Regions from separate parts of the Homo sapiens genome. Here region 1 is linked to region 2. The links come from fine-mapping of genetic effects on gene expression. Tissue or cell type: whole blood. Region 2 holds a variant in brackets; the other region holds the start of a gene. All regions are shown on one strand. Distances are from middle to middle.

Region 1 (4,241 bases), 91 kb after region 2:
TTGAGACGGAGTCTCGCTCTGTTGCCAGGCTGGAGTGCAGTGGCGTGATCTTGGCTCACTGCAATATCCACCTCCCGGGCTCAAGTGATTCTCTTGCCTCAGCCTCCCAAGTAGCTGGGATTACAGGCATGGGCCACCACACCCAACTAATTTTTGTATTTTTAGTAGAGATGGGGTTTCACCATGTTGGCCAGGATGGTCTCGATCTCTTGACCTCAATGATCCGCCCGCCTCGGCCTCCCAAATTATTTCAGGAGTTCTTAATCTTTTTGTGCACGGACCTCATTGGCAGTTTGGTGAAGCCTATGGTCCCTTTCTCAGATTTCTTTTAAGTGCATAATTAAATACATGTGATTACAAGGGAAACCAATTATATGGAAATATTAGCAAAACAACAAACTAATATGGTCATAATATATGTACAGCCTTATTATCACATTAAATAACAATGTCTAACGGCGGGTCTAGTAACACCAGAAATTCAAAGAAGTGTTAACCATAAATGATATTCTGAGCTATCTGCAACTGTAAACATGATGCAAAAATATCCGTAATTTTTATTGATCACAAAGTCATAGGCGCTGCTAATGCTACTCTGGCTTGTTGTCCACATTCGTAACTGAAGGAAATAATAAGTTTCAGTTAGCAGTCAATAAAAATAATGATGTCATTTTATCCTCCTTCTAGTGAAAGGACCCTTCTAATTCTATCCATCAATGAACTCCAGTTTAAAACCCCTCTCTAGTTCAAAGTCCTGCTCAGAACTGATTTTCGTCATAAATTTAAAAATAAAAACACTGATTCCTCCTTTGACCTAGTTCTCATCTGAACCTATCACTATGTCTCCCTGTTTTTATGCACATTTATACACAGAACCCTGGGTGTACTTCTGTGGTTTGCCTAGCCAGCACTCACTACAATTTTGCCAGTCAATAAAAGGTGAAGTTAAAAGAAAAGGGATGGAAACAACCAACAGCTCCCTCACTTTCAGACCTCCGACAGCAAGTGGAAAGATGCCAAGTACAGTGAGTGTCTGTGTTAGGTGGGCTGCCCCCAGACCCGTGTGTCCAGCTTGTCAAGCTTCCCTGCAGCACGATATCTTTATCAGCGACACTCAGAAGACATTCCATTTCGTTCTCGCCTCCTATACTCAGTTCCCTACCTGCCGGGCCTCTCGTCTCTGGCCCCCACCCGAGGCCGCCCCGCGGTCCTCCTGTCCCTTCCCATCCCATCCCCCACGCGTCTCTCCCTCTCCTCAGCCCCAGGCCGCCCTGGCTCCTGCGCGCCGCCACATCTCTCCCCTGGGTCTAACCCAGTGTCCCCCGACCCCCACCTCGCCCGACACTGACGGGAAGAGCCCAGGACCCCGGGGTCAGTTGGACCTGACGGCCGGGCAGTCAGAGACAGGCTGCGGCCCTAGGCCGGAGCAACCCGGCCGCGAGGCAGGGAGCCGCTCACAGCCCGCGGACTAAATCGGGACGCGTACTCACCAAGGGGGTCATGCGGGGGAGGACACGGAGGACTCTGTCGGACCGCCACTCGGCCTCGGAGCCGTCGCCCTAGCCGGTGACTGCCCCCGCCGCCGCTGCCGCCACCTTCGCCACTCGCCTGTTGGCTTCCCTGCGTCCTGCAGCGGCGCTGCCGCCACGCCAGCGCGCGTGCGCAGCGCCGCGGGGGCCTCTGGGAGCTGTAGTTCCGCCCGGGCGGCTAGGGGCTCCCACTTCCGCCTTAGGCAGCCCTAGGTCAGCTGCCCCCTGAGGCTGTCGTGGGTGTCCGGGTCCGGAATCGTCTTCCGGAAGGCTGTTCACCAGGCCTGGGCCCTGGTTTCCGCCTGCAGTAATGCTGGACGTGAAGAATCCGACTGAGCAAGTATGTGTAAAGCAAAAATGTAGAGCGTTTTATGCTTTCTGTGACAACGCTCAGTTGCCCAGGACACATTATTCGCATGAATGACTCTCTCTCTTCTCTGTTTCTCTCTCACACGTACGCACACACTACTTACAAACCTCCCTTCCCTTTTTTTTTTTTTTTCGAGACGGAGTCTGGCTCTGTCGCCCAGGCTGGAGTGCAGTGGCTCAATCTCGGCTCACTGCAAGCTCCGCCTCCCGGGTTCACGCCATTCTCCCGCCTCAGCCTCCCAAGTAGCTGGAACTACAAGCGCCCGCCACCACGCCCGGCTAATTTTTTGATTTTTAGTAGAGACGAGGTTTCACCGTGTTAGCCAGGATGGTCTCGATCTCCTGACCTCGTGATCCGCCCGCCTCGGCCTCCCAAAGTGCTGGGATTACAGGCGTGAGCCACCGCTGCCGGCCCCTCCCTTCCCTTTTGTTCTAAGTGCCATTAATTGGTTTGGATGGTATCTGGATTTTCAGTGTAAAACCTGCCTTCCCACTTCTCAGTTTCTAAAATCTTGCTTATCATAAACTTCACCATGCAGTTATTTTAGGTAAGTCAATAAATGAACTGTCTAATAATTTTTGTAACACCATAACTCATATATTCAGAGGTCAAGTTAGCTGAGTTGAACAGTCTAGAAACCTTAAAATTGGAAGATACCTGCTTAAAGGTCACTAGTGCAACTGTTGCCCAGGCAGGAATTCCCTCCTGTACATTCAGCCAGATGGTCATCTTCCTGTTCAACAGTTCAAATTTCAGGGAGCTCACTCCCTCAAGTAATGCAGCCTGCTCCACTGTTGGACAGCTCTAAATGTTAGAAAGTTCTGCCTCCTGCTGAGCTGAAATCTGTTTCCCTTTATTTCCTTCCATTGCTGGTAGTTAGGCTGCCTGGAGCAATACAGAATGTCTTCCACTTGACAGATCTTCAAAAAATTGAGAACAATGATTATATCCTCCAATACTGGGAGTCTCCAGGCAAAAAAAGGAAAAAAGTAATAATCATTTCCCCAGCTATTTCAAATGTCAATCAACTCCCAAACTGCTTTCTATCTACTCACCTCTCTTGATGTCACCTTTAGGGGCATGGTGGCATATGCCTATAATCCTAGCACTTTGCGAGGCCAAGGCAGGAGGATTGCTTGAGCCCAGAAGTTCAAGACCAGCCTGAGCAACATAGTGAAACCCCAACTCTACAAAAAATACAAAAATCAGCGAGGCATGGTGGCTTGCACCTGTAGTCCCAGCTACTAGGGAGGCTGAAGTGGGAGGATCACCAAGCCCAAAAAGGTCAAGGCTGCAGTGAGCTGTGATCATGCCACTGAACTCCATCCTGGGCAGCAGAGTGAAACCTGTCTCAAAACAAAACAGCAACAACAACATTGACAGAATTGCTTCATATTTATTGCCTTGTTTTATGACTACATAGGTAGTAATAGAACCACCTATGGTAGGCTGGTCAGATGTTATTGCTATCGTGCTGCCATTCAACTCATTCAGGAATTCAATCAGCTCTGTTACAAGACATTACTCAATGCACCGCTGGCATGAAATAAGCAAGAGGAGGCCGGGCGCAGTGGCTCACGCCTGTAATCCCAGCACTTTGGGAGGCCGAGGTGGGCGGATCATGAGGTCAGGAGATCGAGACCATCCTGGCTAACACGGTAGAAACCTGTCTCTACTAAAAATACAAAAAATTAGCCGGGCATGGTGGCAGGCGCCTGTAGTCCCAGCTACACGGGAGGCTGAGGCAGGAGAATGGCGTGAACCCGGGAGACGGAGCTTGCAGTGAGTGGAGATCGTGCCACTGCACTCCAGCCTGGGCGACAGAGCGAGACTCTGTCTCAAGAAAAAAAAAAAAAGAAAAGAAATAAGCAAGAGGATACAATTTACAATCTAGGGTAGGATGAAACTGCCACAGATTAAGGATCATCATAATAAGCCAAGGTACAAAGCATTCTGAGATTCTCAGAGAGAATGGCCTTTTCAAGTTGAGGGTTCATGACCTTATGGAAGAGGTGACAGTTAGGAGTTACTGGATGGCTGGATTTCAAGACAAGAGATGGCATTCGTGGACTGCTAAGGAAGAACTCAGCCTTAGCAAAACCACATTCACAGTGGGCTCTGGAACACTGCGTCTGGGTAGGCTGGAGCACCCAGGCCAGGGAGGAAGGGAAGGAGAGGCCCCAAAAGTTGCAAAAGAATCTTCAGGGAAGCTGCATTGCATGTGAGAAGTAAAAAAGGAACTAGAATGGTCAGTTAATCTTCTGAGCCCTGTTCTGTCACCTACAAATGAAGAACTTGAACTAACAAGCAATTTTCTTTTTTTTTTCCAGTCAGCACACTCA
Region 2 (4,241 bases):
TCTAAAAGGAAAAATACTTTGCATGACATCAGATATATTCAGTGCATACTCTCTTTGAAGAATAAGGGTCCTAACTTTTCTTTAGAAAAATTACTGCACAGACTGGTTTTACAAAGTAGCATGTCTGTGCTCTCTTCAGTAGCACATATACAAAGTAGCATGTCAGGCTGCAGACATGGTAGAGACTGATCATGGTGCCAGCTGCAGAACAGACACCCATTTTGCATTTTGTTTGGGAGGATCTATGGGGCTGAAGACTTAGTTACCTAATTCACTAAATGTTACTAAGCCCCTCTGCATACTTGGTGTATTTTATACTGGAGCTATAGGACCTCATACTTAATAGGAAATTGACAGCTACAGATGACCAACAATAACAACAAATACAGGTTATATGTCACTAGGTCACAAACATCCCCCACCAATTACTTGCTTATAGTCTAAATGTCACATTTACTAGAGTGCCCATTCCCTAAGCCTTGAAGCCTCCTCACTACCTAAGCATCTCAGTTACATTTTTCTCCATAATCATGAGCAGGGGACTGGCAGCAGAAAAAGCACAGCAATTCCTAAGGCTACTTACATCTGCTTCTCTGGTCCAGGAAAGTAGGCTTTCCTATCACCACTAAGAAAAGAAATATGATATTCTAGTTGTTCTAGCCTCAAAATATAGGCATACCTCTTTACCTGCTTTTGTGCAAAGCTGAAGTAAATTGCACTCTTCTATTTGGAACTGCTCATTTGTAACTACATTTCCAGAGTAAATATCCAAATATGTTGCTTAGAAATTGATATGATTTGGCTGTATTCCCCACCCACATCTCATCTTGAATTTCCATGTGTTGTGGGAGGGAATTGAATCATGGAGGCATGTCTTTCCTGTGCTGTTCTCGTGATACTAAGTCTCAAGAGATCTGATTGTTTTAAAAAACGGAATTTCCCTGCACAAGCTCTCTTCTCTTGTCTGCTGCCATGTGAAATGTGCCTTTCACTTTCCGCCATAATTTTGAGGCCTCCCCAGCCACATGGAACTGTTAAGTCCAATTAAACCTCTTTCTTTTGTTAAATTGCCCAGTCTCAGGTATGTCTTTATCAGCAGCATAATAACAGACAAATACAGTAAATTGGTACCGAGAGTGGGGTACTGCTAAAAAGACACCCGAAAATGTGAAAGCAGCTTTGGAACTGGGTAACAGGCAGAGGATGGAACAGTTTGGAGGGCTCAGAAGAAGACAGGAAAATGTGGGAAAGTATGGAACTTCCTAGAGATTTGTTGAATGGCTTTGACGAAAATGCTGACAGTGATATGAACGATAAGGTCCAGGCTGAGGTGGAGATGAGGAACTTGTTGGGAACTGGTGCAAAGGTGACTCTTGTTATGTTTTAGCAAAGACACTGGTGGCATTTTGCCCTTGCCCTAGAGATTTGTGGAACTTTGAACTTGAGAAAGATGATTTAGAGTATCTGGCAGAAGAAATTTCTAAGCAGCAAAGCATTCAAGAGGTGACTTGGGTGCTATTAAAGGTATTCATTTTTTTTTTTTTCTTGAGACAGAGTTTCACTCTTGTTGCCCAGCCTGGAGTGCAGTGGCGTGATCTCAGCTCACTGTAACCTCCGCTTCCAGGTTCAAGCGATTCTCCTGTCTCAGCCTCCCAAGTAGCTAGGATTACAGGAACCCACCACCATACCTAGCTAATTTTTTGTATTTTTAGGAGAGACAGAGTTTCACCATGTCAGCCAGGCTGGTCTTGAACTCCTGACCTCGGGTGATCCACCTGCCTTGGCCTCCCAAAGTGCTAGGATTACAGGCATGAGCTACCATGCTGGCCAGCATACAGTTTTATAAGGGAAACAGAGCATAAACGTTCAGAAACTTTGCAGCCTGACAATGCGATAGAAAACAAAATCCCATTTTCTGAGAAGAAATTCACGCTGGCTATAGAAATTTGCATAAGTAATGAGGAGCTGAATATTAATTCCCAAGACAATGGGGAAAATGTCTCCAGGGCATGTCAGAGGTCTCCATGGCAGACCCTCTCATCACAGGCCCAGAGGCCTAGGAGGAAAAATGGTTTCATGGGCCAGGCCCAGGGTCCCCATGCTGTGTGCAGCCTAGGGACTTGGTGCCCTGCCCTCCGGCCGCTCTAGCCATGGCTGAAAGGGGCCAACACAGAGCTCAGGCTGTGGCTTCAGAGAGTGCAAGCCCCAAGCCTCGGCAGATTCCATGAGGTGTTGAGCCTGTGGGTGCACAGAAGTCAAGAATGGGGTTTGGGAACCTCCACCTAGATTTCAAAAGATGTATAGAAACGCCTGGATGCCCAGGCAGAAGTTTGCC[G/A]CAGGGGCAGGGTCCTCATGGGGAACCTCTGCAAGGGCAGTGCGGAAAGGAAATGTGGGATCGGAGCCCCCACAAAGAGTCCCTACTGGGGCACTGCCTAGTAGAGCTGTGAGAAGAGAGCCACTGTCTTCCAGAATTCAGAATGGCAGATCCACTGACAGTTTGCACCGTGCACCTAGAAAAGCCAGCAACTCCACACCAGCCCATGAAAGCAGCCAGAAAAGTGGCTATACCCTGCAAAGCCACAGGAGCGGAGCTGCCTAAGACCATGGGAACCCTGGCTGGGTGTGGTGGCTGACACCTGTAATCCCAGCACTTTGGGAGGCTGAGTTAGGTGGATCACTTGAGGTCAGGAGTTCAAGACCAGCCTGGCTAATATGGTGACATCCCATCTCTACTAAAAAATACAAAATTAGCCAGGCGTGGTGGCGCATGCCTGTAATCCCAGCTACTTGGGAGGCTGAGGCAGGGGAACTGCTTGAACCCAGGAGGCAGAGGTTGCAGTGAGCCAAGATCGCACCATTGCACTCCAGCCTGGGCAACAAGAGCGAAATTCCATCTCGGGGGAAAAAAAAAAAAGAAAGACCATGGGAACCCACCTCTTGCATCAGCGTGACCTGGATGTGAGCCACGGAGTCAAAGGAGTTCATTTTGAAGCTTTAAGATTTGACTGCCCTGCTGGATTTCAGACTTGGATGGGGCCTGTAGCCCCTTTGTTTCTGCCAATTTTTCTCATTTGGAATGGCTGTATTTACCCAATGCCTGCACCTCCATTGTATCTAGGAAGTAACTAACTTGATTTTGATTTTACAGGTTCATAGGCAGAAAGGACTTGCCTTGTCTCAGATGAAATTTTTGACTGTGGACTTTTGAGTTAATGCTAAAATGAGTTAAGACTTTGGGCAACTGTTGGGAAGGCATGATTGGTTTTGAAATGTGAGAACATGAGTTGGGAGAAGCAAGGGGCAGAAAGATATGGTTTGGCTGTGTCCCCACCCGAATCTCATCTTGAATTCCCATGTGTTGTGGGAGGGACCCAGTGGGAGGTAATTGAATCAATGGGGACAGGTCTTTCCTGTGCTGTTCTCGTGATAGTGAATAAGTCTCACAAGATCTGATGGTTTTGAAAAAGGGGGGTTTCCCTGAACAAGTTCTCTTCTCTTGTCTGCTGCCATGTGAGATGTGCCTTTCACCTTCCGCCATGATTGTGAGGCCTCCCAGCCACATGGAACTGTAAGTCCAATAAACCTCTTCTTTGGTAAATTGGCTAGTCTCGGGTATATCTTTATCAGCAGCGTGAGAACAGACTAACACAGAAATCTACATCCAGGAAAATACAGCCAAGCACTTTGTAGGAAGCCTAGATTCATTTCTGAAATAAGGATAAAAAAGAAAACACTTGCAGCTAACAACTAGGTTTAAAAGCTGAACAGGTGGGGTATATTACCTGTAGTCCTCAGCAATCGAAGCCAGCAGTTTCCTACAAGTCCTATTATCAAAACGGCACACACAGCGCATTGTTTCTTGAAGTTGAGCCATTAGATTCTTATCTTGTAAATTAATTGCTTCAGCTATTTGAACTTTTAAGAAGCATACAATTTCATTGTCTAAATAAAAGATACAAGAATTCTGTTATTCTTGAGAATTTCCATGTGCTTAAATAAGCTAATTCAGCATTTGGGACGTCAATTCTGCTTTGTCACGTATCATTAGAACTAAGCTGTATTGCCACTCCCAATTAGAAAATACTTTAATAAATCATCAGTAATCAAAGTGCCCTTAAGTGATACTAATGTAAACATATTAAGTTGAACCATATGGAATTGCTGTACAGCTTCAACAGCTGAATACTGGCAATTTCATATGGTGCAACCCATAAACATAGGAAAAATTAAACGATCCTGCA

What was found. PIP is the estimated chance that this variant, and not a neighbour inherited with it, causes the effect.
Region 1: it holds the start of GAPVD1, and the variant in region 2 is fine-mapped to the expression of GAPVD1 in whole blood (TOPMed, PIP above 0.99).

The regions. Positions count from the first base shown.
Region 1 is chr9:125,259,209-125,263,449 of GRCh38, reverse strand. GAPVD1 (GTPase activating protein and VPS9 domains 1) reads right to left here and starts at 1,624. Exons shown (of 28, transcript NM_001282680.3): 1 at 1,491-1,624. RefSeq lists silencers at 1,478-1,607, 1,546-1,727.
Region 2 is chr9:125,350,414-125,354,654 of GRCh38, reverse strand. It overlaps GAPVD1 (GTPase activating protein and VPS9 domains 1), which reads right to left. Exons shown (of 28, transcript NM_001282680.3): 23 at 3,783-3,942; 24 at 1. Among named protein-coding and RNA genes, the nearest start is that of GAPVD1, 91 kb to the right of the region's middle. RefSeq lists a silencer at 1,635-1,808. The variant G/A (reference allele first, on the strand shown) is at 2,336.